Linked DNA regions of Homo sapiens. The protein of the gene in region 2 purifies or fractionates together with the protein of the main gene of each other region. This does not show direct contact. Each region holds a gene or a part of one and is shown on either strand. Other genes may lie near its edges. The genes, in order: MAP3K14, CASP10 and TNFRSF10B.

Evidence for each region.
Region 1: the proteins of CASP10 (region 2) and MAP3K14 purify together in Homo sapiens (affinity purification with western blotting; 2 studies listed by BioGRID and IntAct, with this or other methods). This does not show direct contact.
Region 3: the proteins of CASP10 (region 2) and TNFRSF10B purify together in Homo sapiens (affinity purification with western blotting; 2 studies listed by BioGRID, with this or other methods). This does not show direct contact.

What each region holds. Positions count from the first base shown.
Region 1 is NC_000017.11:45,264,916-45,272,022, forward strand, and holds part of MAP3K14 (mitogen-activated protein kinase kinase kinase 14), read right to left. Parts: intron 6,307-7,107; coding exon 6,143-6,306; intron 5,649-6,142; coding exon 5,498-5,648; intron 3,716-5,497; exon of another isoform or gene 3,094-3,715; intron 2,845-3,093; coding exon 2,491-2,844; coding exon of another isoform or gene 2,284-2,490; coding exon 2,177-2,283; intron 1,767-2,176; coding exon 1,622-1,766; intron 1,604-1,621; exon of another isoform or gene 1,335-1,603; intron 349-1,334; coding exon 248-348; intron 1-247.
Region 2 is NC_000002.12:201,186,137-201,193,243, reverse strand, and holds part of CASP10 (caspase-10 isoform 1 preproprotein), read right to left. Parts: intron 5,539-7,107; coding exon 5,445-5,538; intron 261-5,444; coding exon 125-260; intron 1-124. UniProt on the Homo sapiens protein: Involved in the activation cascade of caspases responsible for apoptosis execution. Recruited to both Fas- and TNFR-1 receptors in a FADD dependent manner. May participate in the granzyme B apoptotic pathways.
Region 3 is NC_000008.11:23,023,961-23,031,067, forward strand, and holds part of TNFRSF10B (tumor necrosis factor receptor superfamily member 10B isoform 1 precursor), read right to left. Parts: intron 6,913-7,107; coding exon 6,799-6,912; intron 5,762-6,798; coding exon 5,650-5,761; intron 4,643-5,649; coding exon 4,371-4,642; intron 3,794-4,370; coding exon 3,762-3,793; intron 3,329-3,761; coding exon 3,173-3,328; intron 301-3,172; coding exon 228-300; intron 1-227. UniProt on the Homo sapiens protein: Receptor for the cytotoxic ligand TNFSF10/TRAIL. The adapter molecule FADD recruits caspase-8 to the activated receptor.

The DNA.
Region 1 (7,107 bases), on a different chromosome or scaffold from region 2:
TCATTCCACGGGACTCAGAGAATCCCACCCGGCTCAAGTGTAGGTCTGGAGGACCTCTTTGTCACCACTGCCAGCCTTGCTTTGAGGCCCTGGGAAATGCTTTGAGGTCCTGGGGGACGTTGAAGGCCAATTCCAAGTATTCCCTAGAGTGCCATTCTACTTCTTTGAAAGCTTTCCTCCTGGAGGGTGGGGCCAGCTGCATTGGCTTCTGGGACTCTGCCCGTCAGAGTGTACCTGCCCCCCTTACCTGGCTGCTGATGCCAGTGGCGATGTCTCCCACTTTGACCCGGTGGAACTCCCGGATGTGCAGGTGTTCACCATTAAGAGACTGTATTTGGACTTTCACACCTAGAAGGCGGACAAGGTGATAGTCAGGAGAGCGGCTGCTGGCTCCCCAAGGACCAGGGTCCTGGCAGGGGCTGGGGGAACGTTTTTGTTAAAAGTCACTCTGCCCTATGTAGGGGGAGCAGGTCTGGCTGTGATGGAGCAGCAGAGATAAAATTTAGGCTGGTCTAAGCACAGCTGCATTTTTTTGTTTTTGAGACAGAGTCTCACTGTGTCGCCCTGGCTGGAGTGCAGTGGCGTGATCTCAGTTCACTGCAACCTTTACCTCCCGGGTTCAAGTGATTCTCCTGCCTCAGCCTCTCAAGTAGCTGGGATTACAGGCATGCGCCACTATACCCAGCTAATTTTTGTATTTTTAGTAGAGACGGGGTTTCACCATGTTGGCCAGGCTGGTCTCGAACCCCTGACCTCATGTAATCCACCTGCCTTGGCCTCCCAAAGTGCTGGGATTACAGGTGTGGGCCACCACACCTGGTCACAAAGCTGCATTTTTATAAGAAAAAAAAAATTCAGGCTGGAACAGCCCTCATATTATATACACCTGCTAGTTCTTCCTGGCCGTCAGCACCTGGGATTTGGCCTGTGCATTGCTAAGAGCTGGGGCTGGCTCCTATGGGGAAGTAGTATTTCAACTTGGATGCAAAGCAGAAAGGAACTGAACACAAGGATTCTTAAATTAGATTATGGGCAATTTAGATTGTTGCCTGAGTTGAAGTGGCCTTTGGCCAGCCATGGGGCCCTGATGCCATGAGTCACACTTGCCCTGGAGAGGGCCAGGGAACTCCAAGCTGATGATGCCCTTGTTGTAGCAAAGCCACATCATAACCTATGCAATCAAGCTTGAAAACGAAGGAATTTTATGTTGTCTTTCTCATCTGACCTCAAATCCCAGAGGGGGATTCCTTTTGCTGAGTTTTTGATTAAAATGCTCATGGGTCCTGTTCCTTTTCCCTTTAGAAGAGATTAATTGCTCATTTTCCTGACTCCAGGTCAAGAGACTGCTCTCCTCCCCAAGCTAGGGGAACCTTCTGGGACTCCATCAACTGACAATGAGGGGATAATGGTCCCTCACTGCCCCATCAGGAAAGGCTCATGGGTGATTGGGACCTTTGCTTGAAACCCAACTTACTGGCCAGGAACCTCAAGTTCTGGGACCAGGCGCCTTCCTCCCTCCCACTGTGCCAGAGGAGGGGAGACAAAATCCCTCAATGGCTGTCTAGCTCCAGGCAGATCAGCTGCCACGGGGACTGCTGAGCAGGTGGGAATTGGACTGTACCATTGAAATAGCTTGGGGTGTCGGTGGGCCGCCCCCGGGCCAGCACCATGTTCCAGCTGGAGCTTCGAGCCTCGGCCTGGCTGCTCCAGGAGTGTACGCCTGAGCTCAGGGTGTCCCGCGAGCTTTGAGAGGCCTTTGATGGGTTCTGAAACAACAGGATTGGGTACGGGCTCAGGGCCCTGGGCTCCAGGATCCATCTCCGGCTTGGGTCTCATTTGGGGAAAAGGGGCACTGCTCATGCCCTCAGCTGGAGGAGGGTAAGGGTTGCCTCCATGGGGGACGAAGGCCTGCCTCCCCATTATCTCTGGTGGCAAAACACATTCCCTAATCCCAGAAGGGTAGATTCCCATGGTTTCTCTGACTCTGAACCATGACCACCTCCCCCAACCTAGTGAGGACCCCCACCAGAAGGAAGGGGTGACCCCCATCACCCTCCCTTTACCCACTACTTGCACAGTGTCCATTCACTAGCTGGACGCAAAGCTACTTGCTCTGTGCCAGGGCCGGGAAAACCACACCCCTGGAGCCATGGCTCCGGGGCCACAACCGACTCACCTTCTCACTGTCATCCGACAGGGAGAGGCTGTCGATGCTGAGGCACGAGAGAATTTGCTCCTGCTCCTCCAGAGAAAATGGCTGGGACAGGCTGTTGAGGAATAATTCTGCAGGGAAAAGTGGAAGATGGCTGTGAAAGACTGGGAGGAGGCTGGCTGTGTTTTCAGGGGTTCTTCCTGCACAGTCGGTAGAAGCTGAGCTGCTGGGGAAGGGGCTGGAAGAAAGCCCACACCGCAGGTAAAGAGAAACACCGGCCTCCGCGGGTGGCCCAGGGCCAGTGCTCAGGGCCCCACTGCAGCCACGGCTGCCCGTACCTATTTCCAGCTGCTGCAGTTCCTGCTCCGGGACGGTTGCTTTCCGCTCTGGTGAGCTGGGGTTTCTGGCAGGGGCTGGCTCCAGGGAGGACAGAGGTAAGGGTTCCCACATCCCAGACTCCTCCTTGCTCAAAGTCAAGGGAGGAGACTTGTTTGGCTCTGGGGGCTCTGGTGGGAGAGGAGGCTGGAGCTTAGGGGCTCTGCCTGTTGTCTCCTCAGCTGGCCGGGGCCCTGGGGCCCTTGGCGAAAGCTCTCTCGGCTGGGCATGGAGGGTCTGGTGGTAATTGGCTTGATTTGGCGGTGGATGTCTTGGTTCTTTATATTCTCCCCTCCAAGGGCTCTTCAGACCTCCCACTAGAAAACAGAGAGTACAATGGTGAGGGGAAGCGTGCTGTGCACAGACAGCGGTCCAGGCAGGAGCGGCCTCTCCTGAGTGCAGAAGGGCTAGAGGCAAACAAAGGGGAGGACACTGCCCCGGGCCACCATGGGAGGTGGCTCCAGAGGGCAGCATGGTGGTCTCCACAGGAGACTTCCTCAATAAAATGGTCCCAATATGACAGGGATAGGACTGGATTTCTGTCTTTGATTCTGTTTTTCTTCTAGGTATCAGTAGCAAATTCAAAAACTACAGAATCAGCTCCAGAGGACTTTGTTAACAAGAAAGAGAAGATTGAAAACAGCCCTGGGGCTACACCAACTCAAGAGCTCCCAGGCAAAGTGGCATCCTGGACCCACCATCTCTCCTACCCCATCCTCAGTCGGTACTTCCCCAGGCACCGTTTGTTCTGGCATGGGGCTAGTTCAGCCCTGGGACCACCCTCATCCTTATAACTACCAGCTGTCTTTGGTGAGGTGCAAGATCTCTCTGGTTTTCTTTATTTCATTTTCATTCCTATAATCACAGCCTTTTTTGTGCCCATCCCTCAGGTGACATTCTATTATGTTTGATGTGTCATTTTTGATTTGGTTGTGTCCTTGCAAAATGTGCGTTGTTTTATTTATCAATTTATTTTTATTTTTATTTTTTTAAAGAGATGAGGTCTCATCATGTTGCCCAGGCTGGACTCCAACTCCTGGGCTCAAGCGATCCTTCCACCTCAATCTTCTGAGTGGCTGGGACTACAGATGTGCGCCACCATACCTGGCTATTGATCAATTTTTAGTTTACCAAACAGGCATTATGTTCTGGGTCCCATTCTGTGTCGGGTTCTCTTTTCACTCGGCACCATGGCTTTAGGATCCATCCATGCTGCTCTGTGAACGCCGAGTTGCTTTAACTGCTTGGTGCTCCATGAGGCATCCCCTTTTGTGTCTCTGTCCTCCCAGTGAGGGACCCCATCGTACCCTACTCCCCTCCCACAAAGGAAGCTGTAGTGCGCGTCCTCAGGCGTGTCCCCATATGGATCTGCTGGCATTCGTTTGTCAGTGCACCCAGGGGTAGAAGTCCTTGGTCTCAGTCTGCAGACGTCTGCCTGAGTGCAGCCAGGTGCCCCCCCAGAGTGGGTAGCCTTGTCCACATGCCCATCAGCAGCACCTGAGGGGTCCCAACAGCCCTACATCCCACCAACTTTCTGCTTTTTTCCAGTCAAATGGCTCTTGAGTGTTACCTGGCTTTATTTATTTATTTATTTTTTGAGTCGGGTCTCTGTTGCGCAGGCTGGAGTGCAGTGGTGCAATCATGGCTCACTGCAGCCTCGACCTTCCAGGCTCAAACAATCCTCTCACCTCCTGAGTAGCTAGGACTACACGCATGTGCCACCATGCCTGGCTAATTTTTAAATTTTTTTGCAGAGAAAGGGTCTTGCTATGTTGCCCAGGCTGATCTTGAACTCCTGGCCTCAAGCGATCCTCCTGCCCCAGCCTCCCAAAGTGCTGGGATTACAGGTGTGAGCCACTGCTCCCGGCCTGTCTTTATTTTGTATTCTTGGATTCCTAGTGAGTTTGAGCCCCCTCTATACATCATAACCCTTATGATACTAGTAAACATATATTTTATCTTTAACCCCATTTCTGGCACAGAACTCCTAAAAGCCTTACTCTCCAAAATGATCTCTTTCTGTGTACTAATGGATTGACTGAAGGCTGGCAGCCCCTAGGTAGCTTCAAGATGGGGGCTGGTCATCAGAGAGACATAGGCAGGATTAGAGGGTTGGGACTTTCATCCCACCATCCCACGTACTGGGAGGGAAGGGGGCTAAAGGTTAAGCGGTTCGCCAATGGCCAGTGATTTATTCAATCATGCCTACGTAATGAAGCCTACACAAAAACCCAAGAAGACCGGGTTCAGAGAACTTCTGGTAGCTGGGCACATGGAGGTTCCTGGAGGGTGCCAAGCCCTGGAAGCTCTGTGCTCCCTCCCACATGCCTTGCCCTATGCATCTCTTCATTTGTATCCTTTGTAATATCCTTTCTAATAAACTGGTAAATGTAAGGAAGTGTTTCTCTGAGTTCTGTGAGCCACTCCAGCAAATTAATCAATCCCAAGGAGGGGGTCATGGGGTCCCTGACTTATAGCCAGTTGGTCAGAAGCACAGGTAAACACGTGGGCCTGAGACTGGCATGGCTAGGGGGTGCAGTCTTGGGGATCGAGCCCTCCTGCTGTGGGATCTGATGCTACCTCCAGGTAGATAGTGTTGGAACAGAACTGAATTAGAGGACACCAAGCTAGTGTCTGCTGCAGAACTGATTGCTGGCTTGGTGGGGTGGAAATCCCCACACATGTGGTCACAGGAGTCTTCTGGGTTGATTGTAGTTGAGTGGGAGAATGGAAAAAGCACTTCGAGTTTGCGTGTGAGTTTTCTCTTTCCCATCTCCTGAGCGCTGCCTCTGGGTCCAGGCGTGGCACTGTCGCAATCTCCCAACAACCCTGAGGCTGCTGCACCCCCATAATCCAGAGGGGGAAACTAAGGCTCTGAGGGGTGCCTTGCTCTGGACCTGCGCCCACCTGCCTCCTCTGTCCACCTCTGTCTTCTGCCCCCCGGGTCAGCCAGCGTGGGGCTCTTCCTACCTTGCTGTAGTGCCCGGTTCACCTTCCCTCCCAGCTCCGCTGCAGACACGCGGTGGATGGGCTCTTTCCTCAGCCCCTCTTGGATGGCCTGGGCTGTGAGAGGGGCGCAGGAGGGTGGGATCTCCCTCACAGGCGGAGGCTCGCTGGCAATCTGGGGGGCAAAAGACAACAGGTGAGGCCTGCCTTCCCTCATTTCCTGATACCCGGCTGTTATTGCTCTTTGCGCAACTCCCGCCGGCCCCTGTTCCCGCTGTGCTGGGGTCTACCACAAGGAATGGAGGGGTCTGGGCTACAGTGAGGGCACTTTTCCCAGGAAAGGGACAAATGGAGCCAGTAAAACAGGCCAGAGCCAGGCAGCAAGACGCCCACAGCCTCCAGGCCCGGCCCGTTAGGAGGCAGGTGGATGGGGCCCAGGGTATGGACAGAAGAGAGTTCTCACCTGCCATGAACTTGGTGAGCCTCCGCAGCTGGATCTCCCCTTGTACCCCCAGATTTGGGTGGCAAGTATTTGAATTAGGATCCCACATGGATGACCAGGCCTCCCCTTGCTCCATCTGCCACCGCAGAGCAGCCCCTCCAGCCTGCAGCCTGGGCCCCAGGGCCCTGCAGCTCCCCCTGTTGGCCATGCTGGGTGCCGTCACCGACCTTGAGGCAGAGCGGCCCTCGGAAGAACTGAGTCCAGGGGTGGCAGCCGTTGAGCATGTGCAGCATCATACAGCAGCTGCTCCAGACATCCACCTTGGCGTCGCAGCTCCTGCCCAGCACCACCTCCGGAGCCATGTGGGTCTCTGTGCCAGGGATGTAGTCCCCTGAGAAGGGGGATGAGACATAAAGTTACCTGGAATGCTGATGGGCAGGAGCCTAGGCAATGGCCACCCTGGTTAATCCTCGGGGTATCTTACATTTGTCACTGTTAAAGTACTTTTTATTTTATTATCTTTTTAGTTCTTTGAGATGGAGTCTTGCTCTGTCACCCAGGCTGGAGTACAATGGCGCGATCTTGGCTCACTGCAACCTCCACCTCCCGGGTTCAAGAGATTCTCCTGCCTCAGCCTCCCAAGTAGCTGGAATTACAGGCATGAGCCACCATGCCCAGCTAATTTTTATGTTTTTGTAGAGATGGGGTTTCACCCATGTTGGCCAGGCTGGTCTCGAACTCCTGACCTCAGGTGATCCACCCACCTCGGCCTCCCAAAGTGCTGAGATTACAGGCATGAGCCACTGTGCCCGGACATGTTAAAATACTTTAAATATAGAAATAAAGTCTCCAAGTCAGACTTGTAGGGAGGAGCTAGGCGGGGACTCTGCTGGGAACTTGTACAAAGTAACAGAGCATCCATGATGTGGACTCTGCCCTTTGGACCAAACCCTTAAAGTGTTTTTTAAAAATGGGGCAGGGGCTGGACATTACAAATTAGGTTGTAGAAGGCTAGTAAGTAATACCAGTAAGTAATACTTCTTACTAGTAAGAAATACTAGTAAGTGAAATTTAAAAATTGTAATAGAAAACTTATATGCGTAAAAGACTGAAAGGATAGATGGCAGATGTGAACAGTGGTTTTTTTCCTGGTGATTTGTATTTGTAATTTTTGCTTAGCTCTACTTTCTTC
Region 2 (7,107 bases):
AGAGTGAGTGAGACTCTGCCTCAAAACAAAACAAAACAAAACAAATAATCAAAACATCATGCATGGCCAATTGGTTTAAGAATTTCCATGGTCTGGTCCAAGTTAGCAATCACAAGCTACTTACCTTTCTCTCTTTTGTATTTCTCTATGTTTCTCAAAAGTTTAGGTACAACTGTTTTGCAGAGGTCCTCCAGGCATGTCAGATTATCTTCATCTATTTTACCTTGTTTCTCTAGAAATGCCAGGAAACTTAGGGAGGTCTACAAGAGAATCAATAGAGTTACATTTACTTGCCTATTGATTATCCACTCACTCAAATGTTATCTGCATGGCCAGTAGGCACTAGGTTTTGCACTGATAAATAAGATATAACAGCATCTGCCCTCAAGTTGCTCAGGAATGTAGGGGAAGAGGCATTACCAAGCAAATCTGTATACAATCTATATTAATACCAGATACCAAATATATATATAACTCTATGCAACAGGGACAGTGCTTGCTGTATATTAACAGCACAACAACTGAATAAGTAGATATTATTATAATCCACATTTTAAAGATGAAATAATTGAGGCACAAAGAAATTCCAGTAACTTGCCGAAGGTCACAAAGCTAATTAATGGCAGAGCTGGTACAATCTGATGCCAAAGTCTATGTTATTAACCACTGAACTCTAAGTCACAGCTTTAAATGATACTGCTTAGGAAGCCAGCAAAAGAGGGACACCAAAGAAATGAGGGGAAAATGTTTCGAAAGAATTTTATATTTGATATTTTAAAAGAAAAAGAATTTTCTGAAACAAAAAATCACAATTCAGCTATTATTATTATTATTATTATTATTATTATTTTGAGATGGAGTCTCTCACTCTGTCTCCCAGGCTAGAGTGCAGTAGTGCAATCTCAGCTCAAAGCAACCTCCACCTCCATTCAAGCCATTCTCCTGCCTCAGCCTCCTGAGTAGCTGGGATTACAGGCTCATGCCACCACATCCAGCTAATTTTTGTATTTTTAACAGAGATGGGTTTCACCATGTTGGCCAGGCTGGTCTCAAACTCCTGACCTCAGGTGATCTGCTTGCCTTGGCCTCCCAAAGTGCTGGGATTACAGGCATGAGCCACCCTGCCAGGCCAGAAACTCATGTCTTGACAGCATCCTACCAGGAGGAATAAAGGGCTAAGATGTGATTCCAGAAGCAATTACGGAAATTCATTATACTTTCTAAAAGTTTATTAGATGTTTAGTACATCACACACATACACACGCACATACTTAAATGGGACCTGGACATTAGTTTAACACCACTCTGGCAAATACTAGCAGCAAACATCTGAAAGTTCTTTTTTTGCTTTTTTGTTAAAGAGTAAGTTCAGGTGTGGTTTCCTTTAGACTCAATGTTGTATGCTGATTGCTGTGCTGAGAACGGATTTCCTGACAGTTGTGAGATCTCTCAGGATATGTGTAGGCCAGCTATACTGCTTACATTTCTATGAAAGCTATCAAAGACAAAGCCCAGAATGCCCCTCAAAGGCAAGGTTATTTGTGTTTCCCCAGAGAGACTGTAAGAATTTAGAACCTTTCCGTTTTGGCTGAGGGGTGTTCAGGCCCTTTTCCAATGGTGGGTAAGTAATTTATTTCTGTGATAAGGTCTTTTGCAATTGCAGTTGCAGATAATGCAGCCTCACTGAGCCCTGGTGTGGAAACATCTGTGTTGCTTAGAGACTGTCCTTTACACACTTCCAAAGGCTGGTCTGATTGCAAAATCCAATACAGATCAACCTGGATTATCTGAGGTGTGTAACTCAGCCACAATTCTGACACAAAAAATGAGATCTCCCCACCCCGCCCCCAACAAAAAAAAGCTGAGATCATTTGGAATCCAAAGAGGAAATATGGTTTTCCTGAATTTGACCTGGTAATATCACAATTCCATGCCACAGCTAAGCACAGTTACGTTTCCTTTTACTGTTATACTGAGAAAAACAAGATCATTTGGCCACATGAACATGTGCATTTGATCATTTAAAAGCTATTTTAGTAGGGGGGAAATGTTTGGAATGCTTCTGACCATAAAAATAATTCTGGGCAGGCACAGTGGCTCATACCTGTAATCCCAACACTTTGGGAGGCTGAGGCAGGTGGATCACCTGAGGTCAGGAGTTCAAGACCAGCCTGGCCAACATGGTGAAACCCCACCTCTACTAAAAATACAAAAATTAGCTGGGTGTGGTGGTGGGCGCCTGTAATCCCAGCTACTCAGGAGGCTGAGGCAGGAGGATCACTTGAACCCAGGAGGCAGAGGTTGCAGTGAGCCGAGATGGCACCATTGCACTCCAGACTGGGCAACAAGAGTGAAACTCTGTCTAAAAATAATAATAATAATAATAATAATAATTCTGTAGCCACAGATGCCTTCAAGTAGAGTTCTAGAACCTGTGCAAGCAAAAGAGAAAAAAAAACATTTTCCAGCTTTTCTTGTTTGAAAACTAACACTCAGTGTTTCGAATATCAGAGATTGCTTTAACAAATGACCTTTCTCTCGTCCCTCACCCGCCACCTCATATTGTTCAGAGAGTCCCTAACATAGGACGGGGTATAACAATAAAAAGTGGTCTCATTTTATGTATAAACCTAGACACTGGAAAATTTGTGAGCGGATGCCCCAACTTGGGAGAGAATGTTATGAAAACCACCTGGAGCGCTTGTCAAACTACAGGAATCTCCTCTGACTTTGAGAAATTCTGTATTTAAGGTATAATGCTACCATTTGAGCAGGTAATTGCTTTGTACCACTGCAAATGTGGGCACTGAAATTTTACGGCAAAAGCAGAAGATCCTTACAATGTTTTATAAAAAAGAATTCCCTAAAACAAAATCGCCTGATTTTTAAAATTCTCCAAGAATTACTGAACCTTTAGGTCATGTGTGTGTGTGCATGTGTGTGTGTGTGTGTATACATATGTGTATATACGTAGTGTGTGCATATATATTTACTCAAAAGCAATGAGCATGCCAGCATCGAGTTTGTGGTCTTGAAATGACATCTCTCATTAAAAGAAGTCAGGATTTTTGGGAGAAATGAGAGATTCCAGGACTGGGTAGAAAATATACAAGATGAACCTGGGATATTTTTGCCAGATAGTAAAGAAGCCATCAAAGACTACTAAGGTCATGTCAAAATGACTTAGGAACCAAACTGAAGATGTATCCCCTGGGAAAAAATGGGACAATTGAACTATTTTTTTGAGACAGGGTCTCACTCTGTTACCCAGGCTGGAGTGCAATGGCACAGCCATTGCTCACTGCAGCCTTGACTTCTCTGGGCTCGAGCGATCCTCCCATGTCAGCCTCCTGAGGAGCTGGGACTACAGGTGCACGCCACCACACCCAGCTAATTTTTGTATTTTTTGTAGAGACCGGGTTTTGTCATGTTGCCCAGTCTAGTCTCAAACTCCTGAGGCTCAAGTGACCTGTCCACCTCAGACTCCCAAAGTGCTGGGATTACAGGCATGAGCCACCATGCCCAGCCTCAGTTTGAACTTCAGTAAGGATAATAATTGCAGTAGATTGAAATACCTCACATATGTTTAAATCCATGAGTTTAAATTTATATATATTTTGTAATGGGTCACCTTCAGAGAATGATAAGATACCAATTAACTTAAAAACTGGATAACTAGGCAAAGCACAGTGGTTCATGCCTGTAATCCCCAGAACTTTGGGAGGCTGAGGCAGGTAGATCACTTGAGGTCAAGAATTTGAGACCAACCTGGCCAAATGAAACCCTGTCTCTACTAAAAATACAAAAATTAGACAGGCATGGTGGTGCCTGCTTGTAATCCCAGATATTCAGGAGGCTGAGGCAGGAGAATCACCTGAACCTGGGAGGCAGAGGTTGCAGTGAGCCAAGATCACACCACTGAACTCCAGCCTGGATGACCAAGTGAGACACCGTCTCAAAAAAAAAAAAAAAATAACTGAAAGAAAAGAATCAAGGATTCACATATAAGCTGTATCACTGGGTAACCAAATAATGGATGAAGGGAAAACGAAATGATACAATTCTAATATGTGGCCGGGTATGGTGGCTCACACTTGTAATCTCAGCACTTTGGGAGGCCGAGACGGGTGGATCACCTAAAGTCAGGAGTTCCAGACCAGCCTAGCCAATATGGTGAAACCCTATCTCTACTAAAAATACAAAAAGTTAGCCAGGCGTAGTGGCAGGCTGCTGTAATCCCAGCTACTCAGGAGGCTGAGGCAGGAGAATCGCTTGAACCCAGGAGGCAGAGGTTGTAGTGAGCTGAAATTGTGCCATTGCACTTCAGCCTGGGTGACAAGAGTGAGACTCCATCTCAAAAAAAAAAAAAAATTCTAATATCTCCATTTTTGCAACCCCTCAAAATTCAATATATAAAATGGTTGAACATCAACAGTTGCTAATATCAAAGAAAAAGAGAGAGAAAATCAGGTACCTCCTGATGAAAAAACAAGACTACCTATAGTCTTGCCAAACGGATCTGACCTGAGTCTGATGAAGCCTCTGGATTCAGCTGCCAGTCTGCAGGAAATGCAGAGGACAGAGGAACATGCCAAACTGCACCACGAGTGTGCAATCAGCAAAACTCAGCCTGTGAGAAACTCCACAGGCCAACCGCCCAGAGATTCTTCAACAGATACATTTTAAGAAAAAGAAAGAGATTTGGGGGCAGGGAGGAAATCTAACCTACAGATTAAAAGGCACTTGAAAGAAAAAACTGGACAAGGCCAGGTGCGGTGACTCACACCTGTAATCCCAACACTTTGGGAGGCCAAGGCAGGCAGATCACTTGAAGTCAGGAGTTCTAGACCAGCCTGCCCAACAGGGTGAAACCCTGTCTGTACTAAAAATACAAAAATTAGCTGGGCATGGTGGTGCATGCCTGTAATCCCAGCTACTAGGGAGGCTGAGGTAGGAGAATGGCTTGAACCCAGGAGGTGGAGGTTGCAGTGAGCTGAGATCATGCCACTGCACTCCAGCCTGGGCAACAAGGCAAGACTTCGTCTCAAAAAAAAACAAAAACAAAAACAAAACACAACAGATTCCAACAGAAGTGAGCATTTACTGAATGCTATACCAAATATTGGCCTCATGCTAATGCTTCATGAACATTATTCCAGCTAATTCTCCCAACAATCCTAGAAGGAAGTCATACGATTGCCCACAATTTTACGTCTAAGAAAATAGAGACTCAGAAAAGTTCAATCATTGGCCTCACAGCATGGGTTTAGAATTAGAATCAGGACCAGAATCTAGGCTCATCCAGCACCAAAGCCAATGTTCGTAACCATTGTATGATACTGTCTCCCATAAAAAATAAATCTCCCTAAAAACCCTTTCCAGCATCTTTCTAATCATTGATTAAGACAGTGCTCACACAGACCCATTCTGTATGACCCACTCACCATTTCAGTTTTGGGAAGCGAGTCTTTCAGAAGGAAGATCATGTCCTTTAAGTTCTCTGAGTCAATGCCTTCTGACAGTTCGTAGAGCAGGTTTCTAAGACACACACCCAAAATGACAAATAAAGCCTTACACTTGTGGAGGACACCATAATCAATCAAGTGCTTTCATAAATGTTTTCTGTCATTTGAATGATCAACTCTATGTGTAGACAATTATTAATCCCATTTATAGGTTCAAAAAATGAAAACTTTCAGTTTCTAAGTGACTTGTTTAAATAAAGATAACACAGTAAGTGGTAGAAGCAGGCCTTCTGACTCCAAGTCTAATGCTGTTTTTCACCACACTAAGAAGGCATATTTAAAAAAAAAAAGGCATAAAACACAATTCTGACATGCCTTCCCATCTCCTGATTCCATCAAGAAATTCAGGCTTACTTTACAGGCCCTTGGTAGATAGGACCCCAGGCCAGCCAAGGTACAGTCGGTTGTATATTGAAAAGGGAAGAAAACTACCCCAGCTTCGAGATATAATCCACAACCAGAAACAGTGAGGATTTCATCCACATACTAACACCCCTATGTGTCAGAGACTGTCCCTCAGATGTTTAGCCAGCAGAATGGAAATATGGATTTCTGGAATTCATCATTCCTTCCACTGACTCAAGGGCAACTCAGGTTCTGGAAGCCAGTTCCACCGCTAAGGCTTAATGTGTTCTAATCGCAGAGACCATAAAACACCCTCCAAAGGCTCCTCTTCGTGAGGTTCTCTGATGTGGACACTATGTCAGTGAACAATTTTAAACACTGTCATCAGCCTGGCACAGTGGCTCACACCTATAATCCCAGCACTTTGGGAGGCCGAGGTGCGTGGATCACTTGAGGCTAGGAGTTCCAGACCAGCCTGGCCAACATGTTGGAAACCCTGTCTCTACTAAAAATACAAAAATTAGCCAGGTGTGGTGGTGGGTGCCTGTAGTCCCAGCTACTCAGGAGGCTGAGGCAGGAGAATCGCTCGAACCCAGGAAGCGGAGGTTGCAGTGAGCTGAGATGGTGCCACTTCACTCCAGCCTGAGTGACAGAGCGAGACTCTGTCTCAAAATAAAAATAAAACGCTGTCATCCATGATAAGACCAATGCCTAAATTTTACCTCTTTGGGCAAAATGCCTGTTTTTACCTTTCTGGATTCCCACCCAAAAATATAGAAATTTCTATAACTAGACATGGCATAAATGACATCCCTCCCTACCCCAGAAACACATCTCTTTTTTCATCTTGCTTATTTCACTCCAAGTATGCATTACTCTCTTCTCAAGACCCCGGGAAACAGGTAGACAGACTAGTGGATCCCAGGAGGGAGAAGATCTGCACGTGTAGCCGCTGGTAAGCAGGGAAAACACGGGCTCTGCCACACTGAGGTGGGCTTCACTGCTAGTGAGAAGCAAAACAAAGGGAAGCCACCTCTGGGCCCAGGGCTTGGTCTTGAAGCTTTGCTGACCTCCCAACTCTTATCTCATTAGCATCAGAGGCTGAGAAGGAGGTTTAGAATCTCCTGGTTTATCATCCAAGGAGGTAGATAACCAAAAGATCTTAACTGCAGCTTCCTTTCAAAGCCCAATGGCCAGAATGAACACTAGATGGGAGATCCTCCCATCTCCACCACAG
Region 3 (7,107 bases), on a different chromosome or scaffold from region 2:
GGACGGACAGAGTCATTAGGGTCAATGATAGGGTGCAGAGAGGATGAGGTAGAGTGGGGAGAAGAGATGGGAGAAGACAGTTTAGGGTCCAGATGGTCTATAGCACAGGACCCACGGCTTCCAGCATGGAATACTCTGGAAGAGCCCTCTGACCTCTGGGGACAGCAGTTAGGACCCTGTCCCTATTCCCTCCATTCCTGCTGCATCTCCAGGAGCAAAACACTTACTCTCAGTGGGATCACCTTCATTTGCTGGAACCAGCAGCCTCCTCCTCTGAGACCTTTCAGCTTCTGCCGGTTCCTGTAACACATAGTGGGGAATGTCCTGGTCAGAGCCAGGAGTCCTACAGTCCAGTACTGACCCCGACCACCAGCCAGCTCTGAGACCTGCAGCACGTCACTTCCAGAACATTGTTCTGAAAGGTCTGGCAACAAGACAGGAGACAAAGGGGCAAGACTCTCGGAAGGAGGCCGATACAGCAGTCAATATTTTAGATTAGGAGTGTATATTTTTAAAACCCCAAGGTTTAATTTGTAATACTCAAAAGTGAATATGTCTTGATGATTTTTTTTTTTTTCGAGACAGAGTCTCACTCCGTCTCCCAGGCTGGAGTGCAATAGTGCGATCTTGGCTCACTGCAACCTCCACCTCTGGGTTCAAGAGATTCTCCTGCCTCAGCCTCCCAAGTAGCTGGGATTACAGGTGTGCACCACCATGCCCAGCTAATTATTTTATCGTATTTTTATATTTTTAGTAGAGACAGGGTTTCACCATGTTGGCCAGGCTAGTCTCAAACTCCTTACCTCAGATGATCCATCCGCCTCGGCCTCCCAAAGTGCTGGGATTACAGGCGTGAGCCACTGCACCTAGCCCTGATGAATGTTAAACCACATAGCAGAGGCCAGGCATGGTGGCTCACACCTGTAATCCCAGCACTCTGGGAGGCTGAGGTGTGAAGACTGCTTGAGCCCAGGAGTTTGAGACCAGCCTAGGCGACATAGCGAGATCCTGTTTCTAAAAATAAAATAAAATAAAATAAAATAAGCTGGGTGTAGTGGCACAAAACTGTCGTCCGAGCTACTCAGAAGCCGGTAAGTCCGAGCTTACTTGGCCTTAGAAGGTCAAGGCTGCAGTGAGCCATGATTGTACCACTGCACTCCAGCCTGGGTGACAAGAGTGAGACCCATCTCAGAAAGAAAGAAAAGAAAAGTAGCAGCAGACATAATAAATTAGAAAATGGACTTACAAGAAGACCCAAAATGCAAAGAAACAGCTTTGATGAGGAATAGGAAAAATTTATCTGAAATAAACTCCCAAATCTCGATTGAGTCATAATAGAACACTTGACTTGAAATATTATCTTCTTTGATAATAAAATTGAATGTTGAAAGGATGTCAATCATTCCTAGAACCATGTATTAATTTAAATTAATATTTGTAAAGTCTAGTGACTATGTGGGCGGGAGGGGTACTAGAGAAAATCTTATAATTCTAAATTTTATCTAATTCTAAATTATAAGATGTGTAAAAATAATTTTGAAAACATATTTGCTGTCTAAGATATTAAAACATATTAGACAGTTTTGTTTGGTGTTGTACATGATATAATCCTTTTCATGTCAATACCACATAAATACATATGCATTTATGTACCTAGATGGTATATGCATAAAGAGTTTAGCAAAGAATCACAAGAAATTATCCACTGTAGTTACCTGAAATAAGAAGGGCCAAAAGGCTGGGAAAGAGTAAAGAAGGCTCTTGGTATGATCAAGTTTTTTCATACTCTGGTGGATGTGTGGCTATGGGTGACCTGCTTTCAAAAAATGATCAGGCCAGGCATGGTGGCTCATGCTTGTAATCCCAGCATTTTGGGAGGCCAAGGAGGGTGGATTGCCTGAGTTCAGGAGTTCGAGACCAGCCTAGGCAACATGACCAAACCTCGTCTCTACAAAAAATACAAAACTTAGCTGGGCACGGTGGCACATGCCTATAGTTCCAGCTACTCAGGAAGCTGAGGTGAGAGGATGACATGAGCCCAGGAGGCAGGGGTTGCAATGAGCCAAGATGGTGCCACTGCACTCCAGCCCAGGTGATAGAGCAAGATCCTGTCTCAAAAAAAAAAATCTTCAAAGTCATTAATAAGCATGGAGGAAGTATTGGCATTGTTCATTTGTTTCCTTTTAAAATCTCTTCTCTTTATTTAAAAAGAAAGTGGTACAGATGCAAGGAAGAAACAGAAACAGTCTAGGTGGAAGAGATCTCTGCCCATATAAACATTTGACATTTTCAAGGATAAGATCTAGTTTTTTTTTGTTTGTTTGTTTTTTTAAAAAAGAGTGAAGAGGAAGAGAGAAAAAAGTAAACATTTGACATGTAGCAAAGGAGGTGGCAAAAGGGCAAAGGCAAGGGAAAAAGGAAGAATTGGTTGCTAAATGGGCTTGGAAGAAGGAAACAGAGACTCAGAATAATTCAGGGAGTTTCTCAGCTTATATTGAATCGAAAATTCAATTCTGTTTAGATTATATTGCTGTATGTTAAAAATCAAATCATTAAAAATAAAACACTGCAGGAAACTGGATAGTCTCATCTTATGTTCGAGGGAAGGACTTTCAGTGCTTACGAGCAATGAACAATAAATGTATATACAGATTTCCTGCCTACTCAATATCACATCAAAACTGATGGATTGATATGAACTGATTGTGTGCGTGTGTCCAATACAAAAGCCCTTTGTGCATCGACTTGGAATCCTACTTTTTGGAAGCTGCCCTACGAACTTTGAAATATGTTCAATGTAATAACAATTTCAGAGTAAATTTAAAACTCCTGCTGTTACAAGCAAGGGCTCACTGACTTCTGTTAGGAGCATACGATGGAGACTGTGCAGCCTTATTCACTCATCAATGAACCCTGTGACCCCCACTCTATGCCTGTGGAGCTCCAGGCTCGGGGGACACAGCAAGGACAGGACAGGGAGTAAGAAGCAGATGTCCTGCAGACTGGCACGGTCACCACCTCAGTGCAGCTGCTCCATCCCCTGCAGTCCCCTGGCTCCTTCAGGTTCCATTTCCCCTGGGCCAGGAGAGCTAAGGCACTGCCCTCTCCCACTGTCTACGAAATCCCAGGTGAGCAGCATGCCAGGAAACAAAATGATCTGTCCCCCACTCACCAGCAGATGCTCTGACTCCCCGGGGGACAACATGTTGACACCTGTTGGCTCTGCTGGCTCCTGGACTTCCATTTCCTGCTCAGGGACCTGGGTGGGCTGCAAGATACTCACGATCTCATTGAGGACATTGTCCTCAGCCCCAGGTCGTTGTGAGCTCTGGAAAAAGACATTGGGAAGGCAAAAAGCCGACTCAGGAGTCCACACCTAGGGCTCGCTGCAGGGTCCTCAGTATGCAGCTGCACCTGACATCCCCACCCCCTCTCAGTGAGGTCACCGCAGGCAGCCCAGACTCAGCACATCCAGGACCCGCTGCTGGGGCCAGGCCCCCAGTGCTGTGCTCAGGCAGACACCCCATCCCTAGGGTGCAGGCTGTGGGGTGAGGATGTCACCTGGGCTGCAGCAGGGCTCACCAGCCTATGTGGTGCTCAAAATGGCCATGTGTCCCCCACAGTCAGCCCAGAGCACCCAGGCCACTTCAGAGAGTCAGGGCAGCCATGAGGACAATGGGGACCCACCCACCCAGGTTCTGCTGTCCCAGGAAGCAGTTCCTGAACCCCTGAGCCCCCAGCTCCTGGAGAAATCAACTCACTCTGTCCACACGCTCAGGGTCCCCACCACCACCTAAAAAAGAAGCAGTCTCCTTAGCAGGAAGGGAGGGGCCCATGAAGCACCCCCCTCCCAGAGGACAGTGGGGCGCAGGGCTGGGCTGGGGGCTGGGACACTGGACAAGGAGCCCTGGGGCTGGGGACAGAATGGGGCCTTACAACTCAGAGACACCCTGAGGAAGGGGGATGAGAAGGGGAACTAGAGTAAAAACAAACACTTGGAAAATCTCTGGTTCTGCTCTGACCAAGGCTGAAAAAATCCCACGACCACTTCTCATCCTCACCCTTGTCACCCAGTTGAGGAGCCGACTGCCCCCTGCCTGGCTGGGCCTGAAGATGGGAGGAACTGGCCCTGCCCTCCTGGACTTGGCTGGGAGATATGGGGACCCCCAGACCTGGGAGAGGGACTGAAGAGACCAGGGTCCTGGGGGGTGCACGGGATGTGGGGATGGGGGTGACCACGAGGAGGAGGATAGAGCCAGGCTGGAGGCACTTAGACTTGGGGCAGGGGCAGGCGTTTCTGTCTGTGGGAATAGGGTGGGAGGGGGCAGGGCAGAGAGTGCCCTGTGCCCCCGCCCTCAGCCAGCACCTACCTGAGCAGATGCCTTTCAGGTAAGGAAGGACTTTCTTCCACAGTAAAGACTTGCAAACAAACACAGCCACAATCAAGACTACGGCTGCAACTGTGACTCCTATGATGATGCCTGAGAGAGAACAGGGAGAGGCAGGAGTCCCTGGGCTGGAGGTCACCGTCTCCTCCACAGCTGGGACTTCCCCACTGTGCTTTGTACCTGATTCTTTGTGGACACATTCGATGTCACTCCAGGGTGTACAATCACCGACCTTGACCATCCCTCTGGGACACCTGGGTACACACACAGAGGGAGAGGGGGGACTCTTGATGGAAAGCTGGCCAGGTGGGATGAAAGAGGAGCCACCCTCCCTCCCCAGTGTCCCTGAGAAGGTGTCAGGGGAAGGACAGTCTCCTCGTGTCAGCAGTGGGTCCCCCTGTGCTCCCTTCTTGAGGCTGGGGAAGGGTCTGAGCATGCGCACTTCAGCCCCTCGGCCTCCCTGCTCTGGGGTCAGAGCTGCAGTTCCAGGAGCCTTCTGTGCTGGGCACACACTGAGCTTCCCTGGGCTGCAGGGGAGGCCTGCGTTAGGAGCAATCACACTCCAGGGGAAGGTCACAAGCCCGTGTGGCCACAAGATGAGTCCGGTCTTCCAGTCAACCACAAAAGTGAGCTCTTGTCCCCAGCTGTCTGCCCATTTCCCCCAATCACAGCAAATACTAGGGGGGCCAGAGAAGAGCAAATTACTCTTGGCCCCTAAAACCCAAATAGGGAAAAGACAGGTCTTACTGAGGGATCAGGGGCCAGGGGTGAGGCCGGCTGGGTGGGCTCAGGTCCTCATGGGAACTTGAAGGAGCTCCACCCATGGCCTTATTATGCCTTTTGTGGGCCATGGGCACTTTTGTCTTTATGGGCCCCTGCATGCATAAAAATATTAAAAAATACATTTTATTGCTGAATTGGTATAAAGATGAATATATGCCTGGCTGCATTCTACTCATTCTTCTTATTTCAAGAGAAATTAAATCATTTCATGGGCCCCTAAAATTATCATGGGCCCCAAGTCATGGCCTTCTGTGGTCAGTGAACAAGTCAGCCTGGTCAAGGGGACTCGTGCTGGGGAGGGGTGGAAAGAGGCTGCTGCAGGGGGCAGGGGTGGTGACACGCAGAGGGACCAGGAGGGGCAGCCACAGCCTCAAGGATGCCCCTTGCGGGTGCTGTCAGGGGAGAGACAGGGGTACAAGGAGACTTGGGTCTTTTGGGGTTCCATGGAGCTACTGGGAGCCCCCGGCTCCTGTCTCACCCTGTGCGGCACTTCCGGCACATCTCAGGAGAATCTTCTTCCCGGAAGGTGCCTTCTTCGCACTGACACACTGTGTTTCTGGTCGTGGTGCAGGGACTTAGCTCCACTTCACCTGACGACAGAGCATAAGGTTTTGGGAATGTGTTTTCCTGATGTGTCCCTTGACCCTTCCTCCCCACCCCAAGACCCTGCTACTCAGCTCAACTCAGTTTGCCAAGGAGTTCTGAGGGCCAGTTTCTGCACCAGCACACTCATGGCTCATTCAGGATACCCACCCTTCAGCTGTCACTAACACTCGTTGAGTCATACAAAAGGACCACAGTTCATTATTTATTACATTAGATTAGGGGAAAGCACCGTTTAGGGGACAAGCATCGTTTAGATTGCATGGCCAGTAGCAAGGGAAGTGCAAGGGATCACCTGAGAGACTGCAAGGAGAGGAGCCCTTGGGGGACTTCCCCAAGGCCCAGCCTGCTGGGGAGGAGGGAGAGGCCTGAGAACCTGAAGGGTGAGTGAGGCCGAGCACCTGCCAGGAGCACAGAGCCCAGGGGAGAGAGCCTGGCCCCAAAGCAGACCTGTGCCACTGCTGAGATCCAGCCCTGTCCACTTGGCCTGGCTCATGGCCCCACCCCCTTGCAGCTGACAGTTTAAAAGATTTCCTTACCATGTAGCATACATTATACAAATAATTTCTGTATTATTATTATTTTAATTAATTATTGAGACAGGGTTTTGCTCTGTTGCCTGGGCTGGAATGCAGTGGCACAATCTCGGCTCCCTGCAACCTCGGCCTCCTGGGCTCAAGAGATCCTTCTGCCTCAGCTTCCTAAGTAGCTGGAAATACAGGCACGCGCCACCATGCCCGGCTAATGTTTATATTTTTGTAGAGACGGGGTTTCTCATGTTGCCCAGGATGGTTTCAAACTCCTGGGCTCAAGTGATGCCTCCCAAAGTGTTGAGATTACAGGCATGAGCCACTGTGCCGGGCCTGTTTTATTTATTAAAAAGCTCAAAGACAAAATCATGGAACATGGTATGATGAAGACCAAGGTGGACCAGAATCTAGGTCTCCTGATCCCATTTTAGCTACAACTTTTATGTCATCACCCCGCATTCCACCTTTAGGCATGGGGTCCATATGTTCTGTACCTGAATCACACCTGGTGCAGCGCAAGCAGAAAAGGAGGTCATTCCAGTGAGTGCTATAGTCCTGTCCATATTTGCAGGAGATGCAATCTCTACCGTCTTCTGAGATATGGTGTCCTGGGAGGGGAGAGAAAAGCCGGTGAATGAAATGCCACAGGATTCCCAGAAGCTGGCAGTGGTGGCTGGGGGACTCCTCTTTCAGGGATGTGTGGAACCAAAAGAGGGAAATCTCCTCTACCTAGCTTGGTCAGTTCATCAATTCTGCATTTACACACCTTAAACCAGCACTGCCAAAAGAAATATAAGCCACAC